Regions from separate parts of the Homo sapiens genome. Here region 2 is linked to region 1. Evidence: fine-mapped expression QTL. Tissue or cell type: whole blood. Region 1 holds a variant in brackets; the other region holds the start of a gene. All regions are shown on one strand. Distances are from middle to middle. Region 1 holds the start of LOC124900164. Region 2 holds the start of SPON2 (spondin 2).

Evidence for each region.
Region 2: SPON2 starts here. The variant in region 1 is fine-mapped to the expression of SPON2 in whole blood (TOPMed, PIP above 0.99).

Annotation. Positions count from the first base shown.
Region 1 is chr4:1,196,157-1,210,704 of GRCh38, reverse strand. LOC124900647 (nascent polypeptide-associated complex subunit alpha, muscle-specific form-like) reads right to left here. Exons shown (of 3, transcript XM_047416477.1): 2 at 13,909-14,548; 3 at 11,667-13,574. LOC124900164 reads left to right here and starts at 9,448. Exons shown (of 1, transcript XM_047416479.1): 1 at 9,448-10,079. The coding sequence starts at 9,448. The coding sequence ends at 10,062. LOC100130872 (a long non-coding RNA gene) reads left to right here and starts at 1,743. Exons shown (of 4, transcript NR_024569.1): 1 at 1,743-2,129; 2 at 5,589-5,723; 3 at 9,243-9,436; 4 at 10,658-14,548. It overlaps CTBP1-AS (CTBP1 antisense RNA), which reads right to left and starts at 585. Exons shown (of 6, transcript NR_104331.1): 1 at 147-585. It also overlaps a transcript of SPON2 not described here. RefSeq lists enhancers at 2,110-2,179, 8,358-8,557, 9,798-10,017, 10,513-11,062, 12,945-14,144. The variant C/T (reference allele first, on the strand shown) is at 10,397.
Region 2 is chr4:1,167,637-1,178,519 of GRCh38, reverse strand. SPON2 (spondin 2) reads left to right here and starts at 5,937. Exons shown (of 6, transcript NM_012445.4): 1 at 5,937-5,976; 2 at 6,446-6,668; 3 at 7,034-7,257; 4 at 7,330-7,521; 5 at 7,944-8,118; 6 at 10,864-10,883. The coding sequence starts at 6,449. The region is part of intron 1 of LOC124900647 (nascent polypeptide-associated complex subunit alpha, muscle-specific form-like); the gene reads right to left. RefSeq lists enhancers at 1-82, 1,010-1,119, 5,324-6,041, 6,042-6,757.

The DNA of each region.
Region 1 (14,548 bases):
CATGCAGGTGGGTTATCCTGCCACCCCAAGTGTCCAGACCCTGCCGCGTCATCCGCCAAGTGTCAACCTCCCCTTGCTCCCTGCCCCATATAAAGCAGAAAGAAGCGGGGGGGGGCTGCTGCCTTTGGTGGGGTGCCCCCTCCTACCTGGCTCTGCACCCCAGTGCTCGCAGAGGTCTCTTGGGTATGGGCAGTGGCTCCCAGTCTCGAGGCCCACGCCGAGGACAGCCCCACCTCATGACTGAGGCCTCTGCTCCCTGCCCTCTCCGGAGGTGAGTGGCAGAGGCCGCCCAGCCCATCTCTGACCTGTCTTGGGCTCTTCAACTTGGAGCCCCCTGGGCCACTGAGGGAGGTGGCCTGGGCAGGGTGGGAAGGGTGGGTTCTGGACACGGTTAACAAGCCGGCCCTGGTTTTGCTGACGTGGGCACGGGTGTGAGGAGGGGCAGCCAAGGTGACTTCAAGTGTCTGGGCTGCAGGCTGGAGCTGATGTTTTCTGATATCTCTGGTGGGGGCTGCAGAGGTGGCAGTGGGAAGACCAGGAGTTCCGCGCTGACGGCTGACTCCAGCCTCTCCACAGGCAAGCCCTGGGCTGGGTCACTGGGCCCTGGTCAGCCCCCACGGCAGCCGAGGGTGGGGCTGGCCTCTGGCAGGGTGGGCCGCCCTCCCAGCTCCAGCTGGAGACAGGCCCCGCCCTGAGAGGCAGCCAGACACTGGGAACTAGCTCTGGACACAGGCCTGGAGGCTCCCACTCAGCTGGCCTCATTGTTTCCATGTTTCCAAGTTGAAGGGTCGGGGCAGGAATGGAATGCCTCCAAGGGCTGTCTGTGGTGTGAGCCTGGCGGCCAGGGAGCCGGGACGCTGAAGTGTAACTGAGTCTGGGATGTAAGGGACAGAAAGCTGTCAGAAAAGTGCTCTGAGCCTCGAAACGAACCTCCCCTTGGTGCCGCCTCCGGGGAGTCACCCCGCCCAGCAAGGCCCCAGGAGGGGTGCGGGGTAGCAGGAGGTGGGTGGGGGGCCCTCAGCCTCGGTTTCCTGGCCTGTGAAATCGGCAGCACTGTTTATCTCCCTAGAGGCTGGTATTAGGCTGGAGGTTGTGCCAAAACGCTTAAGACAAGAACATGAAGGAAGGTTTGCATGTTGGAAGGGAAGAGATAAGTCTCTGGTATTTGCTGACAAGCATCTGTGTACAAGACCCAAGAAAATCAGCCAAAGCCTGCAGCTAATCCTGAGACTGGCCAGGTGACCTCACAGGAGCGCCTCTGGTGCCTGCCAACTGTCTCCCCCAAGCTGAGGCGGAAACAAACGGAAACAAAGTCGCAGACAGCGGGTGCCCCATGACAGGACGTGTCCTGCTCTGTCCTTACGACGCAGGGTCTGGCCTGCTCACGCGATTCCACAGTGAGTGGGCACAGTGGTCAGAACCTGGTCCCAGCCACTGGCACCCGGCTGGTAAAGACCGTGGGAGTGACCAGGGCCGCCAACCGTGGTGAACGGTGAGGCCGCCGGATGACCAGACGGGCTGTGCTCGCGGGCGGCGGGCTGTTAGTGTTGTAAACTACATGCGCTTTAAATACCTTTTACCGAGTGCTAGAGCCGTTCATCACCACCCCACGCAGAATTTCAGCTGCTTACGTTGAACAAATTCAACAAGTTTATCCTCAAGTTTATATGCAGCAACAAAGGTCTATGAATTTGGGCTCATAAAACTCAGGCGAATTAAAGAGGAAACAGCCACAGCAGCCTGGTTCTGACACTGAGGGCTCCGGGGCAGGGGCAGGGCCCGCTGGCTTGGCGTGCGCGTGCGTGCACAGGTGTGTGGGTGTCTGCCTGGTGGGCGGGCGGCGTGTGCGTGTGCGCATGTGTGTTTGTGAACTGGCGATGTGATCGAGGGCACGGGTGCTGGGCTTCCCCCTCATGGGTAAAACCAGAGCTACTGTATGCCAGCCGTGGAGGCATGGACGGCCCCTGAGCTCGGACAGCAGACGGACAGACCGTTGACGCGTTGGCACCGTGGCCAGAGTCCGTTCAAGAAAGGTCGGCAGAGAGGGCTGAGAACGCGGCAGGCACATCCTCCAAGGGCCCTGCTGGAACCCCTGGAGCAGGAGGAAGCGGTGATTCTCCAGGCCTTGGGTAGGGCTCAGAGGCAAGAGGGGTGGAGCTGGGGAGGGTCGGGCAGCCCCAGCACCTCAGGCTACTGCGCCTTGGTGGGGAACTCTCCTGCGGCTGCTGATGAACACCCGGGCTCTGGTCTCCTGTAGACTTCCGCCCCGGGCACGGGAGCAAGGGGAGGCTGCAGGCAGCTCCGGGGGCCTTGGCAGGAAGTTGGGAGGGTCGGGACAGTCCCTCTGGGGTGGCCCAAGCAGGGCACAGGGCAGGGAGCCAGGCTCTTCGGGGCCCCACCCCAGGCTGGCCCTGCACCCCATCCTGCCTTCTCTCCCCACTGTGGGCCCAGAACTTGCCCCGTGGGGGCCGGGAAGCACCCACCATCCCCACCCCTAGCTGCTCTCAGCCAGAGCCCAGCTGGACTTGCAGGATTGATTTTCCAGCAAAAAACAACAGCAGAGAAACCCAAGAGCAGCTGCATGAGCCCTCCCAGGCCTACCCCCGCAGCCGGCACTCCCTGCAGCAAAGAAAACCATCTGGCCACTGGGCCCTGAGCCCGGCGCCCGGAGGAGGACCTCTGCCCCGCTGAGCAGCTCTGCTCCCCAGGCTGGCCCTGGGCCTCTCGCGGCCTGACCCGCTCCCCTTGGCATCAAGCACCAGGAGGGACGGGGTGGCCCGGCCAGGGCGTGGGTGTTCCCCGGCCCCTCTGAGCACCAGCACCTGGTGAGTCTACCTCCGCTTCCCCAAGCCCTTGACCACTGCCCTGGACAGCCTCAGCCGCCCCCTGACCCGACCTTCAAACGGGCCAAGGGCTTCCCATGTAGGGTCCGAAAACATCCCTGATAGGCAGGACATGAGACTTGAACAATATAAGGTTAGGTGCATCTGTAAGCGCGGCGCATGGTTAGGCAGCCGGACCCTCTGGAGCATGTGTAAGCGCGGCGCATGGTTAGGCAGCCGGACCCTCTGGAGCATGTGTAAGCGCGGCGCATGGTTAGGCAGCCGGACCCTCTGGAGCATGTGTAAGCGCGGCGCATGGTTAGGCAGCCGGACCCTCTGGAGCATGTGTAAGCGCGGCACATGGAAACAGCGGCTCTTCTGGGTGGCCTCTCTGCTGCCCTTTCTTTTTTAAACCAGCTACTGACCCCGTTGGTCAGTGGTAGCAGTGTCTGTAGGATCCCACTGTGGAGGGCTCGCCACTCACTATCCAGGTCCCTGATGCAAGCTGGCTCCAGCTGGGGGTGCCCACTGTGGGGACGCCGGGGCCAGCCGGGGCCAGGGCTGTGGACACTGGTGGGACGGAGGGTGTCGAGCAGCCGGACTCACCCACATCCCTCCCAGCCCCTACAGGCGTCTAGGCCTCCGGCCTCCACCCCCTCTGTGCAGTGGGCAGTCACACCTGGCGGGGCCCGGCTGCCTGCCCAGACAGCAGGTTCTCAGCAGCAGCCCTGGCGTCCCAGGTCAGCCTCTGCCCAGCCCCACATTCACCTGACAGTGCCTCCCGGGCACTGCCCTGCACCTGCCCACACCAACTCCAGCCTCCTCCCCGTGCTCCCCACCCGCCCTGCACCTGCTCACACCTAACCCCATCCACTCCCAAATGACACCATCCACCCCCACCCACCTCCAATTGCCCCACACCTGCCCCACACCTGCCCCCACTGCCTCTTCTCCTGTCCCTATCTCCTCCCACCCTCCATGTGTCTCCCACCTATCCCCTCACCTGCTCACACCTGCTCACACCTGTCTGCCCCTCACCTGTGCACTCGTGGTCAAAGCCATCTGCTTTTACACCTACCCCACACCTGGGGTTCGCCTTAGACTGGGGTTTGTTCTCTGCTGCTGGCGGGGTCCCGGCTCTTCTGCCCCCTGAGGGAGACCTCACAGGGCAAGGCCGCTTCCCTACCATGAGCCTCAGGCCCTGCCTCCCCTCTCCGCCTGCAGAGCTGAGCCTGGGGAGGCTCCTTCTATTCCAAGAGCCCCACTCAGCCCGCTGGGTCCCCGTTCCCTGAGGAGCTGCTGCTTTTGCTGGGCGCCCCAGCCCTCCCACAGGGGACACATCTGTCCTGGAGAGACCACCTAGGGAGGCATTTGCTGTTGGTCCCTGCCCCGGGCCCTCCAGGTCACTCCCTCTTCTCGTCTGTCACAGCGTGGCCCTCTGGCCCCACAACCTGGGCTGCCGGCCTCCCCCTGCCCTGGCAGAGCAGTGGTGGGGCCAGACCAAGGGCTGACAACCGCCAGCCCCTTCAGCTCGGCCTAGGCCCACGGTCAGCCCAGGGGAGCTGGGGGCTGCAGCCGGGTGGGTGAGTGGCACCCGCAGACCCTTGGCAGGGCCCTCTCCAGTCCTGGGTGCCCTGAGAGGCTGCTGGGGTCCAGCTGCTGCCCGCTGGCTCCCGTGGGGGCACACATGAGGAGCAGGGAGGGGGGCATCCTCCTGTTCATGGCCCCGGGTCAGCCTTGGGTAGGGCAGGGTCACCCTGACAGCCCCCAGCCCAGTACCAGGGGAGGAGACCAGGCAGGAGAAGCCCTCCCTGGAAATGCAAACCCAATGCTGGGCGTGGCCTCCTCCCAAAAGCTCCGCCCCCAACCCCCCACTCCCTGGTCAGGGTTGGGGGCCTGGAGGGAGACAGAGGCCAGGAGGCAGCCAGGGGAGCTAGGGGTGGGCATCGGGCGGAGCATGGCTTCCTGCGGCCCCAACCCCCAGGCCCGAGCGAGGAGGTCTCAGAGGCCCCTCCTGGACCTTTCTGCCCATCCAAGCTGAGGGTCCCAGTTTGTCAGCCGAGGGCCTGCACAGCTTCAGGGGTGAGAGGGGCCCCTGGTGGGGCCTGGTCAGGTGTTTGTGGGTGGGACATCTGAGTGAGGGAGCCTGGGCGGGCCTGGAGGCCCTGGGGCCGTGGTGACGCCAGCATCTCCCCTGATCAACACCAAATGATGCCCCTCCCTGGGCCCCCACCCTTCCCAAGGCTGCCGTAGGCACTGCTGGCAAAAGCCTCGGATGCTTGGGCTGGCAGGGAAGGCCAGGCGGCTCCGATGGGGCCTCTGGGGACAGGATTGCGGGAGGCCAGGATCCTCGTTTTTAACCCTGAACCTTAGCACCTCTGCAGGGTCCCCCAGGTGCTGGGCACGGCTCTCCCTGGACAAAGCCCACAGCTCCACGGATGCCAGCTGCAGTTCTAGTAAAGATGTGGACATGGAAACCGAGGGGCAGGGTTTGCCCCTGGGTGCAGCTGCTCCGAGGAGGCCCCAGCTCAAAGGTGCCTCCCCCCATGCCCAGTTCAGGCATCGGGCCTCAGCCAGCGCCACCTCCTGTGTCCAGGAGCTCCGGGCATGGCCTCTTCCCCAGGACCTCAGCCGGGTGCTGTCTCCACCCACAGCCAGTTCCTGTCCATGTGCCCCCAGGGCCCTGCCCTGTGCAAAGTCTGGTCAGCGTTACGGGGAGGGCGTGGCGAGGGCACAGGGAGGGGACAGCTGGGTCTTCCGCCTTAGCCACAGGGACAGGCCAGGCCTCACAGCCAAGAGCCCCGGGAAGAGCTGCATGCACACGGCTGGAGAGAGGCTCTGCACCCGAGCACAGCCTGCTGCGACTCCTCATAGACCCGGAAAACTGATTAGAAGGCAGAGGTGAGTTTCGGAGGGTGGCTGTGCACAAAATTCAGAGTCAGGAATCAGCATCTTTCAAATTCAAGCACTTCCAGTTAGGAGAGACAATGAAGAAAGAAAAGGGACCATTCCCAACAGCAACAAAAATTGTAAATTTCTAGGAGCAAACGGCGGGCACATCTATACCTGTTATAGAGGGTCTGAGGCCTGACTGAGGACCACAGACCAGCAACAAGCCCGGTCTGTCCTGGGCGTCACGAGGTGCCGTCCCTCGTGCTGGCCGGCTGCCACAGCGGGGCCAATTAAAACACCGGAGAACCCTGGAATCAGGTAGATTGATTGTGAAGTTAACGTGGAAAAATAAGTAAGAAAACTAAGGAAATTCTGGAACAAAAGATGAACAAGGGAACCGTGGCCACCAGGTTTTAACACACACCGGAGGCTGCACCTAGGGAGCCCCGTGTGGAGCTGGTGCGTGGGTCGCTCACAGTAACAATGCGAACGGTGAACACGCAGGCATTACAGACACGCCAAAAGGACGTTTTGAATCAGTGAGAGGCTGTGTTCAGATCAGCAGTGCAAAGCCACCCTCCCGGGTCTGTATCCTGCAGACAGTCAGTGCCCGTCTAATATTCTGGGGACCCCTGCACATCAGGCTGAGGTCATGGGGTCACACAGTAGCATTTCTCTGCATTTCTGGCTAATGACTGAGCAGAAAGGATGTGTATCGGCTCCAGGGTAAGGTAGTGAAAAACCAGTGTGCTAAAGAACTCTCACAGCTCAGCAATACAAAGATAAACAACCTAGTTAAAAAATGGGCAAACTGGGAGAGGCCGGGCGCAGTGGCTCACGCCTGTAATCCCAGCACTTTGGGAGGCCAAGCTGGGGGGACCATTTGAGGTCAGGAGTTTGAGACCAGCCTGGCCAACGTGGTGAAACCACATCTCTACTAAAAATACAACAATTAGCCACCACGTGGTGGTGCACGCCTGTAATCCCAGCTACTCAGGAGGCAGAGGCAAGAGAATTGCTTGAACCTGGGAGGCAGAGGTTGCAGTGAGCTGAGATCGCGCCACTGCACTCCAGCCTGGGTGACAGAGAGAGACTCTAACTCAAAAAAAAAAGGCAAAAGAATTTGAATAGATGTTTTTTCCAAATAATATATGCGACCAGCCAACAAGCTCATGACAAGCTGCTTAACACCATTAGCCACCAGGGAAATGCAAATAAAAACCACACGAGACCACACCTCACACCCACTGGGATGGCTGGAACCGAAAGCATCATAGGTGTCAGGGCGGAGACGTGGGAACCTCACATGCGGCTGTTCTGTTCTTCAAAGTGTGAAGCCGAATTCCATGTGACCCAGCAATCCCACTCCTGGGTACACGTCCCCGAGAATCAGAAACAAAAGCTTATCCACACAAAAGCTTATCCACAAATGTTCCTGGTAGCATTATTCACAATAGCCCAAAGGTGGGCACAGCCTACATGTCCATCTGCTGAGGGACAGATGGGCACATTGTGGCCTGGCCCCACACTATTCTTCACCCGTAAAAAGGAATGAAGCTCTGGCCCATGCTCCAAAGTGGATGAACCTCGCAAACATTTGCCAAGTGAAGGAGGTCAGACGCAGACGGCCACATATCACATGAGACCATTTATGTCAAATGTCTGGAATGGGCAGGTCCACGGTGACACAGAGTAGACTCCCAGCTGCCCGGGGCTGGGGGCGAGGGCACAGCTGGGGGAAAATGGGAAGGGTCTTAGTCCATCCCCGCTGCTGTAACAAAACACCTCAGACTGAGTAATTTATAAGCAACAGAAATTTATTTCCTGTAGTTCTCAAGCTGGGGAGTCCAAGATCCAGGTGCCGGCAGGCTGGGGTCTGCTGAGGGCAGCTCCAATGGCGTATCCAGCCTCACATGGCAGAATTCGGAGGAAAAACAGCCAAGCTAGTTCCTTCTAGCCCTTTTATAAGGGCCCTGAGGACAGAATCATGGCAAGGGATGAGACCCTGGGGCACCTTTGGGACCGCAGAGCTCACTGCCTGCCTGGGTCTCCCCCGATCCTGGCCCAGCCCTCCTTGGCCGCCCCAGCCATGGCTCAGGCAGGTGCAGGCGCAGCTCCAACCATCGCTCCCAAAGGCACATGCGGGGGGCCTTGACGGCATCCACGGGGCGCTGACACTGCAGGCGATGGTGGCCTGCACCCAGATTTCAAAGCATGTTGCTGACAGCCTTGGGGCCCAGGCAGAGGCTCATCGTGGGGTTGGAGCTGCCTCGGAGTCCCCACCGAGGCTATGCCCACCGGAGCTGAGGTGGGGGCTGCCTCCGAGACCCCAGGACTGCAGGGCCACCAGCGAGCAAGCACAGCCTGGGAGAGCGGCAGGCAGGAGACTCCGACCCATGAGCACTGAGTGGGCTGAGCCCACAGAAGCCGTGGGGGCCCAGCCCTGCCCCCATGTGTCTGGAAGGTGGGCAGGGAGTCCAAGATCATCCCCTGTTCATGTATCCTATGAGTCCTGTCCCTCTAGAGAATGCTGACTCATATGATTTTGTATGTGAGAGCGGTGAGTACTGGGCCTGGCGTGCAGTGCCGTGGTTGGAACGTTTCCGTCCTCTAAAGCTCAGGCTGAAACTTAGACCCCGTGGAGTGCCGGGAGGTGGGGACTGATGGGAGGTGTTTGATCCACTCACGAGGCAGAGCCCTTGTGACTAAAGCCACCATGAAAAGGGCTTGTGGGGCAGACCCACCCTCCAGCCGGTGAGGATGCGACGTGCAAGGGCCATCGTGGAAGAGGAGAACCCAACCTTGGCCTCCAGACGGGGAGGCAGGAAGTCTCTGTTGATAAACTGCTGTCTGATGTTCTGTTGTGGCCTCACTCAAACCGTGGCGGGGAGCGGTTGCTAACAGGCACAGGACGTCTTCTGCGGATGATGAACGTGTTCCGGAGTGAGATGAGTGGGGATGGTTGCACAACTTCGTGAACATGCTAAAAACCACTGAATTGTACACTGTAAAGAGTGACTTGTGAGCATGTGAATTTCATCTCAATGAAGCTGTTTTGCGGGAGCCAGGTGAAGCACTGTGGAGGCCACGGCTCAAGAAGGCAGCACCGGCTGGGCGAGGTGGCTCACGCCTGTAATCCCAGCACTTTGGGAGGCTGAGGTGGCTGGATCACGAGGTCAGGAGATCGAGACCATCCTGACTAACACAGTGAAACCCCGTCTCTACTAAAAATACAAAAAAATTAGCCGGGCGTGGCAACCGGCGCCTGTAATCCCAGCTACTCAGGAGGCTGAGGCAGGAGGATGGCGTGAACCCAGGAGGCGGAGCTTGCAGTGAGCCGAGATCACGCCACTGCACTATAGCCTGGGTGACAGAGCAAGACTCTGTCTCCAAAAAAAAAAAAAAGTCAGCATCAGAAAACCAGAAACTGCGCGCGGACCTCAGTGTGGCAGGCACTCCCGGGGTGCAGACGGGGTGAAGGCAGCCTTCTCTGTGGTCACGTGCATGTAACGGCACCTTCTCTCTCAGGGCCTCCTCCCTCCCTGCGTGGTTTGGGGGCTGTTCCTGATAGCACAGATGCCCTGATCACAAACACCTGCCTGCATTGCTGACCACAGGCCTGGCCTGGAGAAACCCACAGCCTCTTCAGGGAAGCGAGCAAGGGGCTTGGAAGTGCCTGAAGCCAGTGGGCTGGGGACTCACGGCCGGGACACTCAGGGCAGGTAGGGCGGGCATGGGGCCCCAGCATGGCACAGGGCCAGACCCACCCCCTCTTTGTCACTGCCCACATACTGCGGGGGGAGGGGCTGGAGGAACTGGGGCACCTGCATTTGGCCTGCAGGGAATCTGGGTCCCGCTGGCTGTGGGTGACCGCAGAGGGCCATGTGGGCAGGGTGCATCCATGGGCGCCCCAGGCCAACCTCGTCAGGGTGGGAGGGGGAAGGGCCAGGAAGCCTCAGCCCAGACCAGGTATGGTGGGAACAGTCCACACGGGAGGGGCCAGAACCGTCTAGAAGGCCCTGGCGTACAGGTCTGCTGCAACAGAGCCAGGAGGGCACGGGGGTGCCCACATCCAGGGCAGAGGCACCACGTGGTGCTCAGTCAGTGGTCAGGGTCAGGCCTGGTTGGTGGCATTGAGGACACTGCAGACTTGGCCCCACCTCCAGGAGCTGGGCTTTCTCCACTTGCTCACAGCAAAGGCAGGGACCAGAGGGGTGGGGGGCTGCACCCACCCTCTCCTCGCTGCTCCCCTCCCCCTTACCACCCCGTCCAGCGATGTCCACGCAGATGGGAGAGTTGTGAGGGTCGTCCACACCTGGCCTGCAGTGGCTGCCCAGCTTCCTGCTAGGGAGATGGGGCCGGTGCTGATGGGGAACAGCTGTTGTGGGGGCAGCCAGAGGAAACCACGTTCCCGTGGGGTGAGCTCATGGTTTACACGTTCCCTGCCAGATCCATAACATCCTGGAGGCAGAAGCGCAGAGGCTGAGCCCGCCCCCGCCCCCGCTGAGCCTCCCCTGCTCTGACACCAGGGCGGCTCAGCCATCCTCGCTTAGCCTGCACCTCCTGTCCTGAAGCCCCTTCCTCCCTCCACTTGCTCCCTCTGTCATTTACTCCCCAGCCCCGACCCACCCTGCTCACCCCTGAAGCTTCTCTGGGTCCTGGACTCCGTTCTGCAGGCTGGA[C/T]GCCTTCTCAACTGTCCGTGGAGCCTGCCTGGTCTCTGGGGGTGTTGAGTGAGGGGTGACCCAGGAAGAACGTGTCAGAGACAGTGGACAGGGAAGCGTTTCTCACCCCTTAACTCACAGCAGCCCCACCGGGCGGACACAACCATCAACCCAGCCGCAGGTGTAGAAACTGAGGCACACAGACGCGATGTGGCTGCCCGTCTGGTAACTAGCAGCCGGGATTGGAGCCTGGGTCCAAGCTGCCTGTTCTTTCTTTCCTAGGCCGTGCGCCGTTTCTCCTGGAATAACTGGAGGTGATTTCATGGAACCTGGAGGCTGGGCTTCAGGCTGGGGGGAGAGGCTCCAGACTGGGTCTTCTCCGTGGCTCTGCCCCCCGCTCTCCTTGCTTGAGTGGTGGGGGCCCTGCATCCTCTCATGCCCACCCCCACCTTTCTCGCCAAATTGTCGGAGGCTTTTGTCACCTGGAGACACTGTTCCTGCCAGCTCCGGTCTTGGAAAACATGGCCTCTCCTCTCCTGCCCTGGCCCCGGCCCCTCCTGCCAGCTGGACGTGGGCATTTCTGCACCCAGTAGAACCCCACAGCCAGGAAAGATGCCTGGAAGGCTAGAGAAGAGGCGTGATGGGGGGACCCCATGTGTGGCGACAGAGCAGCACACCCAGCTATTCTCAGCCACCATGTGGGAGAGAAATGACGCCTCTGTCGAGCTCCCCATGGCCGGAGCTGCTCCATACAGCATCCTAACCTTCACCCCCAACTACTCAGTTGCCATGGCAAAGGGAATATTTTGACTCCCTTTTTTTAAAATTTCCAGGTGATTATTGCTAGAGGAGTGGGAAGTTACTAATTTTTGTATATTTATCTTGTATTAAAATGTTTTTACTGATTTTTAATTTTAATTTTAATATTTTTTGAGATGGAGTTTCACTCTTCTGGCCTAGGCTGGAGTGCAGTGGTGTGATTTCGGCTCGCTGCAACCTCCACCCATGGGTTCAAGCGATTCTCGTGCCTCAGACCCCCGAGTAGCTGGGATTACAGGCATGCACCACCACGCCCGGCTAATTTTGTGTTTTTAGTAGAGACAGGATTTCACTATGTTGGTCAGGCTGGTCTCGAACTCCTGATCTCAGGTGATCTGCCCACCTTGGCCTCCCAAAGTGCTGGGATTACAGGCGTGAGCCACCGCACCTGGCCTGATTTTTAATTTTTAAATGAGGGAGCAGAGGCATAACTAGGTTTACAATCATGTCATCAACAAAATAAATTGTCTTATTTTTCTGATATTTGTGCCATTTATTTGGTTTTTCTATTAAGTTTGCCAGAACCTCCGAGAAAATGCTGGACAATTATGACAGCAGCAGGCCCCACGAGTCGACCCTGGATTTGTGACATTTGTGTTTTCCACGTAGAACGATCTTGGCCACTATTGTGGACAGAGACTTTTGCACTTTTTTCTATTTTACTAGAAATAGTGCTTTTATTCATAAAGATTGCTGAATTTGGTCAGTTTTCTTTTCAGTACCTGTCGGTGAGGTTCTCTGAATTTTCTGTGCTAATTGGCTAATGAAATGACGTCTCTGATGACTGCGCTGCCCTCGTAAGCCTGGCCTTCATCTGCTTGGCCATAACACGATGCTGCCGACGCTGTGTTGGGTCCTATTTGCTGTTCTCTTGTGTAGAATCCGCCGACGCTGCGTTGGTTCCTATTTGCTGTTCTCTTGTGTAGAATCCGCTGATGCTGCATTGAGTCCTATTTGCTGTTCTCTTACTTAGATTTTTTTGCATCTGCGAAAAGTGATATTTGTCTATGGTTTTCTCTTTTTGTTCCACATCAGGTTTTTGAATTAGATTATCCTGGTTTCATGAGATGAATTACAGAGTTTTCCATCCTTTCATGTCTTGGGAAGGTTAAAGTAACCCTGGGATGACTTTCCTTCCATGGAAGGTGAGGTCATCGTCAGCTGCGGACATCTGCTCCTGGTGCCTCCTTTCCTGGCTCAGCTCTCGCCCTCTCCAGCACCTCGTGCTCATCTCTGCGTGGTGCCGCTCATCCAGAGTCATTCTGGACTTTACACCCACGACAACATGGCTGCTGCAGGTTTCGAAGCAGCTGCCCCGGCCGAGCGGGCTGTCTCATCATTCCTCCAGCCTCTTCCATACTGGGGTCTCTTTCTTCCTAATCATGTGTGGGTTTTTTTATTTCAATGTACAAAAATTCTAAATAGAGGTAGTCATTTATTTGTTTTAGTTTTTTTTTTTTTTTGAAACAGAGTCTCACTTTATCACCCAGGCTGGAGTGCAGTGGGACGATCTCAGTTCACTGCAGCCTCCACCTCCCGGATTCAAGCAATTGTTCTGTCTTAGCCTCCCAAGTAGCTGGGACTACGGGCACGCACCACCATGCCCGGCTAATTTGTGTATTTTTGCAAAGACACGGTTTCACTATATTGGCCAGGATGGTCTCAAACTCCAGGCCTCAAGTGATCTGCACACCTCAGCCTCCCAAAGTGTAAGCATTACAGGCGTGAGCCACCACGCCCAGCCTAGGCAGTCATTTCTTGATGCAGCTTTTGGGCTGGGCAAGGGGATTTTATTTTATTTCTTTCAGAAAACAATCATTTCTCCTTTTTACTTATTTGTTTTCTACTCATTAATTTCTGGCTTTATCTTCATAATTCTCCCTACTTTTTAAAATGCACTTTATTGTTCTCATTCTAGTTTCTTAGGGTGGCACAAAGTCCCTCTCGTTTATTTTTTCCTCTAAAAAATAAGAGCTGTGCTGGGGGCTCTGGGCGCTGCATTAGCTGAGTCCTCGATATTTATGGATTGATATTTATGGCTTCTCGGCTTTTCAGAGAGTGCACGTTCAGATTTAATATCCTGTTTTACCCAAGGGCTACCTGGGAGTGTGTTGGTTTCTAAGTTTCTGGGGGAAGAGGTGGCACTTTCCGTTATTTATTTTACAATTTTTTGGATAACAGGATCATTTTAATTATTCTACTTTTTAGTTCCTTGAGGTTTTCTTTGCAGCCAATACACAACAGACATGGACTTATCGGAAGTCGGAACGTTTGGAAGCTCTGTTTCCCGTGAGGAATCTTCGGAAGCGCTGTTTCCCATGAGGAACGTGAGCATGACCATCCATATTGATCTGTCTGCATTTTTCTGTTGCCACTAGACCTAATTATGGAGAGAGAGACACGGAGGGAGCTCCTGTGACCCTCAAGTCCCCTCATCATGTCCCCGTCCTGTTGGCTTTCCGAGTTTAGCTCCCATGTTTGGACCATGGAGGTTTATGTCTTCTATCTCAGTCATCGTCCCTGCCACATGCCCAACCAGACATGCTGACATCACAGGCCCTACTTAGCCCTGTTTCCTCTCCCCTTGGCCTCACCTTGATGTCAGGGGGGTGTCCTCTGGTCTGACTCAGAGGCAGTGACTGGCTTCCTTCTAGTACCTTCTCTGGATAATGAGTATGGATGACATACCTTCTAGTGTCTGCTGTCGCGCTTACCGGTGACACTTCTGGGCTGGTTTGTGATGCCTGGGATGGAGCCGTCTCCCTAGTGGTCATGGATGATGTTTCACTGTCCCCTGCTTCTGGTGGCACAGATGAGAACTCCAGGCCTCGTGCTCTCTCTGCTGGCACACACATCTTCCCTCCATGCTGGCTGCACACCTGCCCATGGGGTTTCTGCAGGAGAGGAGACAGCCAGAGGCCCAAGTGGGGTGTGTGGCAGGCAGGCAGCAACCCTGGTCACTGCAGTGGCCTCTGCTCTGAGTCTCGGGAGTAACCCTGGTCACCGCAGTGGCCTCTGCTCTGCTTCTCAGCTATGCCTGGTGTGACCCCCAGGGTCTTGGTCGGCATGAGGCCACAGAGCTCACGTGCACTTCCCGCAGCTGCTTCCACGGTATAGATGAGAGGTTCCCATGGAGCTCACATGACCTCTAGAGACTTGCAGACCCCTATGCTGTCAGACAGAGGAGGCTGAGGCTCAGAGAGGCACAGTCACCTTCTTGAAGATGCACAGCCGTGAGTGAAGAAGCTGGGATTTCTCCTGGTCTCTCTGACCCTGGAACACGTGGCCTCTGGGTGTGCCCAGTAAGAGACGTTAAAGAAGGGCCTCCCCCATGAGCCCTGACTGAGGCGGGGC
Region 2 (10,883 bases), 30 kb after region 1:
CTTGGCCAGGGAGGAAGTCAGCGGGTGCTGAAGAGGAGGGACAGAGGAGAGTGGGGCGGGAAGAGCCACTGGACCATGTGGCCCCATCCCTTCGAGTCTGAAGATGAGGGAGGGGGAGGGGGCCAGGAGAACCACTGGACCATGTGGCCCCATCCCTGCGAGTCTGAAGTCTCAAGGGCTAAAGTAGCCTTTAGAAAGCAGATATGTGCAGAGCCCATGGTGCCTGGCCGGAGCAAAGCCCTTGGTGTGTGCAGAGCCCATGGTGCCTGGCCGGAGGGAGGCCCTCGGTGTGTGCAGAGCCCGTGGTGCCTGGCCGGAGGGAGGCCCTCGGTGTGTGCAGAGCCCGTGGTGCCTGGCCGGAGGGAGGCCCTCGGTGTGTGCAGAGCCCGTGGTGTCTGGCCGGAGGGAGGCCCTCGGTGTGTGCAGAGCCCGTGGTGTCTGGCCGGAGGGAGGCCCTCAGTGTGTGCAGAGCCCGTGGTGCCTGGCCGGAGCGAGGCCCTTGGTACATGTCCGTGAGTGGACAAGCAAGTGTGATGTGTCTGGGTGGGCTGGCAAACACAGGACTTTTCAGGTGGGTTTTCAAATGCGCAGCAGGGTCCCTTGGGGGAGCCAGAAACTGATCCTGGAGTCTGGGTGCTCTGGAGGAGACGGCCGCTCCCGTGGGTGGGTACTCCGCGTCTGAGTCAGCTGGTGTGGTGTCAGCAGATGTGGCCAGGAGCTCCATGCTGCTGGGCCAGGCCTGGGTGCCTGTGCCGCGCCCCAGGGAGGGGCTGTGGGCAAGCCCTGAAAGAGCCGTTGACATGCCAGACCCTGAGGGCCCCCATGCCAGAACCCATGCAGAAAGGTAAAGAAGGCCTCTCCCTTCTCAGCTGGGACCCCTGCCCCCTGAAGGGATCTTGGGTTCTGGGGCCCGGGGCAGGGCCACAGCCTGAGGCGAAACAGAGCAGGGTGGCAGTTAGGGGAGGCTCGCCAGGCATTCCTGTATGCCGTCTGCTCCACGCGGCTCACAAACAAACCCATGGAAACCCCACACCCGCCTGCTCAGATCCAATTTAAGCAGCACAGACTCCACCCCCGATGCCTGACTGGGAAAGGAGCTTCACAGCACCTGCGGTTGTCCAAAAGTCCAACCTTAGCAACACATTTTGGTTAAGACAACTTTTAAACATTGCCAACACCCTGGGAGTGTGGGCGCTGATTACTCACACTGTGGTCTACACTTACCCAACCACAGCAGGCACTAAGGGGGTGTCAAAGACAAGGGGGTGCCTGCTGGGGCCGTGGCAGGGCAGCCAGGTGGAGCTGGATGTGGACACAGGGGCTGCTCTGCCCAGCTGCAGACAGGCAGCAGCCACTGGCTCCAGCCACAGCCTTGAGCCACACTCTCCTGAAAACCACCTTGGGGCAAGTGGCTCAAGTGACCTCCAGGAAGGCCCTGTCCTCAGAGGACCCTGGCATTGCTGTCAACCAATTCACTAAACACTTTACTGAATAAGAGAATCCAATCTACAAAATGTATCCACTCCACCCCAGCCCCCTGCAACCTTGGGCCTAGTGGGGTCACTCCTTTGTCCCCATCTCTGAGATGCAAGGAATACTCACCTTGTGGTTAATGAATGAATGAATGGTGTGAATGAATGAATGAAGTGTGTGAATGAATGAATGAAGTGTGTGAATGAACTGTGTGAATGAATGAATGAACTGTGGATGATTGCATGAATGTACTGTATGAATGGATGATTGAATGAATGTACTGTGTGAGTGAATTAGTGCATGAATGTACTGTGTGAATCAATGTACTGTGTGGATGATTGCATGAATGTACTGTGTGAATGGATGATTGAATGAATGTACTGTGTGAGTGAATTAGTGAATGAATGTACTGTGTGGATGACTGCATGAATGTACTGTGTGAATGGATGATTGAATGTACTGTGTGAATGGATGCTTGAATGAATGTACTGTGTGAGTGAATTAGTGAATGAATGTACTGTGTGAATCAATGTACTGTGTGGATGATTGCATGAATGTACTGTGTGAATGGATGAATGAATGTACTGTGTGAGTGAGTGAATGAATGAATGTACTATTTGAATGGGTGGATGAATGAAAGTACTGTGTGAGTGAATGAATGAATGTACTGTGTGTGTATGTGGGGGGCTGCTCCTGCCTGCGGGCACAGAGGAACTCTTCTGTGTGGGTGGGGGGACACCTTGCAAAGTGCTGGTGTGTGAGTTACACCTATGGATACTTATCCTGTGACCCTCAGCAGAAGGCAGGATAGAGACTTCTGGTTCACAGAAGAGGGTCTGAGAGCCAGGGGGGTTTCCAGCAAGACTCTGAGAGCATGGAGTCACACAAGATCACTCCGTCACTGGCCTGCAGTCCCTGCCTCAGTGCAGAAACAGCTCTGCCTGAGACCCCAGCCCGATCCAACCCAAGGGGCCACAGGATCCAGAAAATTAAGCCCACCTGGCCCCAGTTCTCCCATGTCCCCCTCTCTGAGCACAGCAAAGAATGCTCCCATGTCCCCTGGTGCCCTAGGGCCTTCGCAGGCGTGCTTTTGGAGGGGCCTCCCACTACCAAAGGAAGTTCCTCCTGGCTGCTGTCTACTCCAGCCCTCCAAACAAGCCCCCTCCCTTCCCAGACAAATCAGCTGTGGCCCTGCCTGGAGCACCTCCAAGGCCTCGGTCTACCACCACCCCACATCCTAGCTAGAGACCCCCAGGCCTAGGCCCACCACTGCCCTACATCCTAGCTGAAGCCCCCGAGGCCTGGGCCCACCACTACCCTACATCCTAGCTGGAGATCCCCAGGCCTGGGCCTACCACCACCCACATCCTAGCTGAAGCCCCCGAGGCCTGGGCCTACTACCACCCACATCCTAGCTGGAGAACCCCCACCCAGGCCAGGGCCCACCACCACCCTATATCTTAGCTGGAGACTCCCCCCACACAGCCTGGGCCCACCACCACCCACATCCTAGCTGGAGACCCCCCAGCCTGGGCCCACCACCGCCCTACATCCTAGCTGGAGACCCCCCAGCCTGGGCCCACCGCCAAGTGGGGGCCCCAGGTCGCAGAGCTCACTGAGACGGCATGAGGGCCGGGCTGGGAGAACAGCTCCTGCTGCCCCTGGGCTGTTCCGCAGCCTCCTTGGCCTCCTGTGAGACTGGGTGAGCCTGGAAGCCGCTGCCACGGCCAGAGCTGGACTGAGATGGGGACTGTGCCTCAGCGAGTCTCTGGAGCGGCACCCTGGCTTCCTACACAGGAACATGCCCCAGACCCGGCGCCTCCTTCCTCTCCTCAGACCCAGAGCCAGTAGCTTTGCCATGGAGCCTGTGCTCCTTTCAGCCGAGGAAGCTGTCCAGAAAGCGAGGATTGTCCAGGGATGCAGAGTAGCTGCAGTACAGCCGCCCCATGCCGCTCTGGGAAAAAGGCCTGTGGATTCGAGTCCAGCCTCTGAGCAGCGGCTGCCAGTCCTGCTCTGGGGACTCGTGGAGGGCCTGAGATCCTTCCAGGCAGATGATGAGATCGAAGCCCATTGCATGAGGGCACCTTTTGCTCCCATGCTCTGATGGGCACACGGCGGCTTTCGAGGGCTGCAGGCCAGAGCAGGCACCTGACAAGGCTGGTAACATACGCAGCCAAGGCTGGATTTTCTTCATAGACTTCAACCAACAGCACATCTCAGCAGATGAAGTGCTGGAGCCGATATGGGAATCCAGCTTCCACTAAGCCGGACAATACAAAGATTCGCACCAACGTAGAACCACGCCACTTTTCTCAGGCGGGTTTTTCATTTTTAAAAGTATGATTGCTTTTCATAAAACATTATGCTATTTATGTTAATGTGTAATAGCAATATTTTCTTATTTTTAAGTGAATTGGCAAGTATTCTGAACATTTCTGTTATGATTTAGAAAATGATAAGTATCCATAGGTATAACCCATACAAACAAAAAAGTTCTTCAGTGTCCTCAATTAGTTTTTTTTGTTTTTGTTTTTTGTTTTTTTGTTTTTTTTTTTTTTTTGAGATGGAGTCTCGCTCTGTTGCCCAGGCTGGACTGCAGTGGCGCGATCTTGGCTCACTACAACCCCTGCCCCCTGGGTTCAAGAAATTCTCCTGCCTCAGCCTTCTGAGTGGCTGGGATTACTGGCGTGCACCACCACATCCAGCTAGTTTTTGTATTTTTAGTACAGATGGGGCTTCACCATGTTGGCCAGGCTGGTCTCGAGTTCCTGACCTCAAGTGATCCGCCCGCCCTGGCCTCCCAAAGTGCTGGGATTACAGGCATGAGTCTCACTCTGTCGCCCAGGCTGGAGGGCAGTGGCACACACAGTTCACTGCAGGCTTGACCTCCCCTGGCTCAGGTGATCCTCCCACCTCAGTCTCCTGAGTAGCCGGGACCACAGACACAGTCTCCTGACTAGTTGAGACCACAGGCGCACTCCACCACACCCAGCTAATTTTTGTATGTTTTGTAGAGATGAGGTCTCCCTGTGTTGCCAAGGCTGGTATCAAACTCTGGGCTCAAGTGATCCTCCCGCCTCGGCCTCCCAAAGTGCTGGGATTACAGGCATGAGCCACTGCGCCTGGCCCTCAGTGACCTTTAAGAGTATGAAGGAGTCCTCAGATAAAAACATTTGAGAAGCACGGAGGTGGAAATTTGTCTTTGGCCTGGGGGCCTGGAGTCTAAATACTGCATTGAGTGGCTGATCTGTGGTTTTCGCTTAAAATACAGGTTAGATCATTTGTTTCTGTTTGCATTCTGTCCTAGTTGCTTCTATTTATTTTTTCTCTCTTTTTGAATCTGTGAAACATTAACAGGGTTCCAAACATCAGAGTGTTTTGTCTAAGCTTAAAAGCCCTCTGGGTGATTCCGATGAGCAGAGGCCGGGAAGGATTGAGCAAGACCATTCCCGAGCTCCTTCCTCCGCTCTGTTTCCAGATCCCATGACTGGGGACCTATAAATATTTTCCTGACATGGAGCAGGATCAACTTCAGCATCTGTTAGCTTCATCCCAAAGGCAGGGAAGCCTAGAGCCCCTGGGAGGGCTCTGCACCGCACACACCGCCGGCCTGCAGCCCCAGCCCTGTGCGGGGTCCTGGGGAGGGGGGCCCCCTTTCTGTGGCTCTTCCTGACTCCCTGCGCGTTCCACCCCAGACCCTCAGCCCACTCTGACCTCCCTCCAGGAGGGATGGCTTGCAAATGCCCTCTGGCCACAGTGCAGACCGCTAGGCTGTTCTGTGCAGCTTTAGGCCATGCCAGGAAAGAGACTTAAAGCCAGGGCCCCAAAGGCCAGGGATGCCTGCGCCGGGAGCCAGGAGCTTCCCCAGCCACTTCCAGCATGTAGACTGAAGTCAGGCCACGCACAGGGCTCTCCAGGTCACACCCTGCGCAAGAAGGTGTAGCACGCTGGCTCTAATTTCGAGAAGGTGAAAACAAGAGCCCCTCTGCCCCCACGCCCTGAGCTTTCCCGAAAGGCTTGGGGCAAAGAACTCCCCTCAGTGGCACCTAGGGAGGCACCAGGAAGGCGCTTGTTGGAACGGGAGAGAAACGGGGAGAGGGAGGAGGACAGGGGGGAGGGGAGGAGGGGAGGGGAGGAGGGGAGGGGAGGAGGGGAGGGGAGGGGAAGGGAGGGGACAGGGAGGGGAGGGGAGGGATAGGACAGACAGACAAAGAAAGGGGTGCGGCAGCACTGCCAGGGGAAGAGGGTGATCCGACCCGGGGAAGGTCGCTGGGCAGGGCGAGTTGGGAAAGCGGCAGCCCCCGCCGCCCCCGCAGCCCCTTCTCCTCCTTTCTCCCACGTCCTATCTGCCTCTCGCTGGAGGCCAGGCCGTGCAGCATCGAAGACAGGAGGAACTGGAGCCTCATTGGCCGGCCCGGGGCGCCGGCCTCGGGCTTAAATAGGAGCTCCGGGCTCTGGCTGGGACCCGACCGCTGCCGGCCGCGCTCCCGCTGCTCCTGCCGGGTGAGTACTGCGTGCCCCCGGGACACCCAGAGAGGGCCCGGGCCTCCTGCACTTTCCCCGCGGCCCAGAACCTTGTGGCACCTCCAGAGGGACCCCCAGGACTGGCTGCGACCGAGCTTTAAGGGTCTAGTCCCGGGGGCAGCCAGTCGGCCAAGGCCCCGGGTCCCTGCGACGGCGAAGGCATCCCGGAGGCCGCACCCAGACCGGCCCGGCAAGCTGCAGGGACTCGGACTGAAAACCTGCCCGTTACCCCTGGTCGCTCGCAGGCGCACGGGCGATCTAACCCCGCGCCGTCCATTCCGCTGATGGGGGTCTCGGAAGCACCGCAGGAGAGCTTTGCGGAGCAGGGAGGGGGTCGCGGGTGCTCGGGGCCGTCCTCAGAGCCCAAAGTGCCGCAGCCCTCTCGGCTTTCCACCCCGAGGCTGCCACGACGGTGCCAGCGCGCGGCTGCTCCCCTCTGTGCTCCCAGGTGATGGAAAACCCCAGCCCGGCCGCCGCCCTGGGCAAGGCCCTCTGCGCTCTCCTCCTGGCCACTCTCGGCGCCGCCGGCCAGCCTCTTGGGGGAGAGTCCATCTGTTCCGCCAGAGCCCTGGCCAAATACAGCATCACCTTCACGGGCAAGTGGAGCCAGACGGCCTTCCCCAAGCAGTACCCCCTGTTCCGCCCCCCTGCGCAGTGGTCTTCGCTGCTGGGTAAGTACAGCCCCCTCCTCGCCTCCTGCTCCACCAGGAGGGCTGCGGCGCCGGAGCCCCCCGCACAGCTGCACGGCGGCGCTTCCCAGTCTGGGGCGTGCTGACGTCGGGAGACTCTAACACCAGAATGTTTGCCGAGCGCCTGCGGTGTGCGGTTCCGGGGATGCGGTGGGGGCAGGGGGCGCTCACGGGGAGGGCGCAGGTGGGTCGCGGCAGGGGCAGCCACAGGGTGTCACGGTCCGACGTGACTGGGGGCCATGGTTCCCTGCGGGCGGCGGGGAGGGATTTCCTGGGGCGCCCCCTGGAATCCAAGCCCGACCGCAGTGTCTGACCATGGTCCGCGGCGCGGCCGGGTGGTCCTGCAGGGGCCGCGCATAGCTCCGACTACAGCATGTGGAGGAAGAACCAGTACGTCAGTAACGGGCTGCGCGACTTTGCGGAGCGCGGCGAGGCCTGGGCGCTGATGAAGGAGATCGAGGCGGCGGGGGAGGCGCTGCAGAGCGTGCACGCGGTGTTTTCGGCGCCCGCCGTCCCCAGCGGCACCGGGCAGACGTCGGCGGAGCTGGAGGTGCAGCGCAGGCACTCGCTGGTGAGCGCGGGGCCGGCCGGGGGCGGGGTCCGGGGGGCCGGGGCCAGGCGCGCTGAGCCGCTGTCGCCGCAGGTCTCGTTTGTGGTGCGCATCGTGCCCAGCCCCGACTGGTTCGTGGGCGTGGACAGCCTGGACCTGTGCGACGGGGACCGTTGGCGGGAACAGGCGGCGCTGGACCTGTACCCCTACGACGCCGGGACGGACAGCGGCTTCACCTTCTCCTCCCCCAACTTCGCCACCATCCCGCAGGACACGGTGACCGAGGTGAGTGGGCACCCCGCGTGCGCAAGGGCCGCTATGGCCCCCGCGGTGGGGACGGGGCTGGGGCCTGGCTGCACCCTCGCCTCCCAGCCCAGGACAGCCGCTTGCGGCTTTTGTGTGGAAGAGGCTCTGCTTCTAGCGCCAGCAGTGAGCAAGGGGGTGCAGCCCTCCCATACTCTCCCAACCCGGGGTCACAGCACCGCAGGGAGGACAGCGGGACGCGCGTCCCGAGGAGGCTGCCCCTTCCTGGCCTCGGTTTCCAGCCCGTGTTCCGTGGGATGGCTGAGAGGAGTACATGGGACCCTGTCCCCAACAGTGGTGCAGAGGGCACGCTGGACGCTGGGCAGTGGCCCCAGTGAGGCCATACGCATACCAGAAGGTGGGCTTCTCGGACCCCAGGCCAACCTCCTCTTCTTCCTCCCCAGATAACGTCCTCCTCTCCCAGCCACCCGGCCAACTCCTTCTACTACCCGCGGCTGAAGGCCCTGCCTCCCATCGCCAGGGTGACACTGGTGCGGCTGCGACAGAGCCCCAGGGCCTTCATCCCTCCCGCCCCAGTCCTGCCCAGCAGGGACAATGAGATTGTAGACAGCGCCTCAGGTAACGGACATACAGGTCACATGGGACACACAGCAGCCCCGAACCCTGCCACAGGGCGACCACCAAACCCGAACCTAAGGCTCTGAGAAATTCCAAGTAGGGATTCGTAGTGCGTACTGCAAGATGGTGCCTAGAAGATTTAGGATTCTGTTGATTCACACACTGAAGATGTGACTCTTGCACATTATTTGCAGTTGAAAGCATCTTACAGGGCCACAGCCCAGAGGAAAGAATGAAAGGAGGCTCCAGACAGTACCTGAGAGACTCTGTCCTGTCAGACACGCACCCACAGGTGACCTGTGTGTCACAGCTGACAAGGAAGCTTGCTAGGATGGCCCTGTGTGGCCACCGGGTGACAGCTATGCTGCAGGGCACCTGTGGGGGTCTCGGGACCCAGCCACCACACAGCTCGGGGCTCTGCTCACAGGCGCCTTGGCCTGGGGCGGGGCAGGTGCTGATGAGCATTCTCCTAGCTCTTCCAGGCACCTGCTGGACAGGGCAGGCTGGGAACGCTGGGGCCGAGTGGCAGTTCCCTCCCTACTCAGCTGGGTGGCAGCCACTGGCCTCACGGAGCGCCTGTGGTCTGGAGCGCATTGCTGGGTCGTGGGTCAGGGCCTGTTGGCTCTGGGTCTCTGGGTCTCACCTGATATGGGTGTGGGACAGTCAGTGTAGGCCCCAGACAACAGCGGACTTCAGACTTTCCCGAGGAGGAACTGGAGCCCACCAACCTGGCCATGGGCCCCGTCGTCCTCCACCCTCCATGTTGCTGGCTGGAGTTGAGGCAGGTACGGGGCCGCCCCACACCTGCCCCCCAAGCCATGTGGTAGGGACAGATGTCGTCTTGAGGAGCAGCAGTAATTACAAGCTTACTGTCAGCCGTCCCTGGAAGCAAGGGCCAGGTCAGGTCAGACAGGAGGCCGCCTGGCTGGCGGGAACCACTCCCCAGACAGAGACTGTGCCCAGTCCTGGGTCCCTCCTCATTTGGGATGAACTGGGCCTCCCTGTGCCAGCCTCGGTGCTGCCCCTGCCCAGTGCAGGCTTGGGCTCCTCACTCATTTGTCCACGCGGATGCCCCATTCCAAGCAGATGTCCCCGAGCCACTTACCCAACAGGCAGACGTGCCAGCACTGTTCGTGGTGTGCAACTGGTCTGGCGGGAAGAGCCCCTCGTGGGCAGAGGGTCCAGAGAGGTGCGGTTTGCCCCACATTTGGGGGCACTGGGCCACAGTGGGCAGGGGAGCACATGGCCAGTGCCCTGGGCTAGGAGAGGGATAAAGTCAGCTGTGGCCAAGCAGAAGCAGTATTGCAGGGGAAGGGTGGGGAGAGACTGTGCTATGAGCTCTGAGCAGGAGGCAGGACATGGAGAGAAGGGTGGGAGACGGACAGAGCCAGCTGTGCCAGCCGAGGGACCAGAGTGGGCAGTGGGGACGGAGCACAGACCACCGCCCACAAGGGTCTCTCCTGTGACTTCTGGCTTCCCGAGGGCAGAGGCTGGGATGGGCATGTGGCGGCTGGCACCCAGGAGGCTCCGCCAGGTCCACGCCAAGCCAGCCTGGCTCAGCTCTGGCTTCCTGCTCACACGCTGGATGCCTGTCCCCAGGCCTCCTGACAGGGCTCTGCAGCATTGGAGAGGCTTGTGGTGGGGCCCTCGCTGTAGAACAGGCACTGCCAGTGCTCACTGACTCCTCATTGCAGCCAGGGCAGGGGCGCTCCCACCACCTCGGTTTCAGTCAGGAAGCTGGGGGGTGCTGGGATCTGCCAGCAGCTCTGTGTGCTCCCCAGGTGGGCTGCCCGGGGCCCTGGCTCTCTGGCTTCTACACCAGTGCCCCTGCGAAGCCTCAGCGCCCAAGGTCTTTGCAAGCCCTGTTCCTGCATCTCTGGAGAGGGCTGCTCCAGGTGTGGGCCTGGCCAGGGCTTCCAGACCAGTCCAGGCACTGCACCTGCACATTGACCCCCTTCTCCACTCTCTCTCATCCTTCAGTAGCCACAAAGCTGGCAGCAGGGTACTCGCAGATTTGTGAGGAGAGCCGAGCCCTTGCTGACTGTCCTCCCGTGCACGGCAGAGTGAGGCGGGGCTCCTGGCCTCCTTAGGGGCTGCCCGCTCTGGGCCACACAGCCAGAGAAACACTGTCCATCTGGCTGGCTTGGCCTGTGGGGTGCAAAAGAGGTGTTTTCACTTTGCTTTGGAAACATGGAAATTACCAAGTGACTTAACCATAACACCAAATGATGATTTTTAAATTTATGAAAATTATGGAACCAGATGGGACACAGGGAAACGAGAACGATACTGAAAAGGTCTGAGTCCTGTGGGGGGTCCAGGTCCCGCAAGACAGCTAATCAGGTGCCCCTGTCTGTTATTCGGGTAAATGTAGCAGCTGGGTCCAGGCTCGGGCAGAGCAGCTTTCTACAGCAGGGGTGTCCGCCCTCTCCCGGGGTTCCCACGGGGTTCCCAGGGGCCCCTTACTCTGCCACGATGTGGGAGTTCCACCACCACAGGGACTTGAGCGGCAGCTCCGGCTCTTACGTAGAAACGCGCAACTCCAGTCCCTAGGTTGTGTCCGAGGTTGCTATGGTGCCATCCCATCTTGCCGCTCACTCTGCGACTGTGCGGAGAAACGCAAGTGCCCCCGAAGGGTGGGCGTGGCCTCTGATGAATGCACACGTTGGTGGGAGGTGGCTTCCGTTTGTACGAAGCGCCTCTTCACGCGAGCGTTCACCTCGGTCTCCCCTTTGCTTGGTCCAGTTCCAGAAACGCCGCTGGAC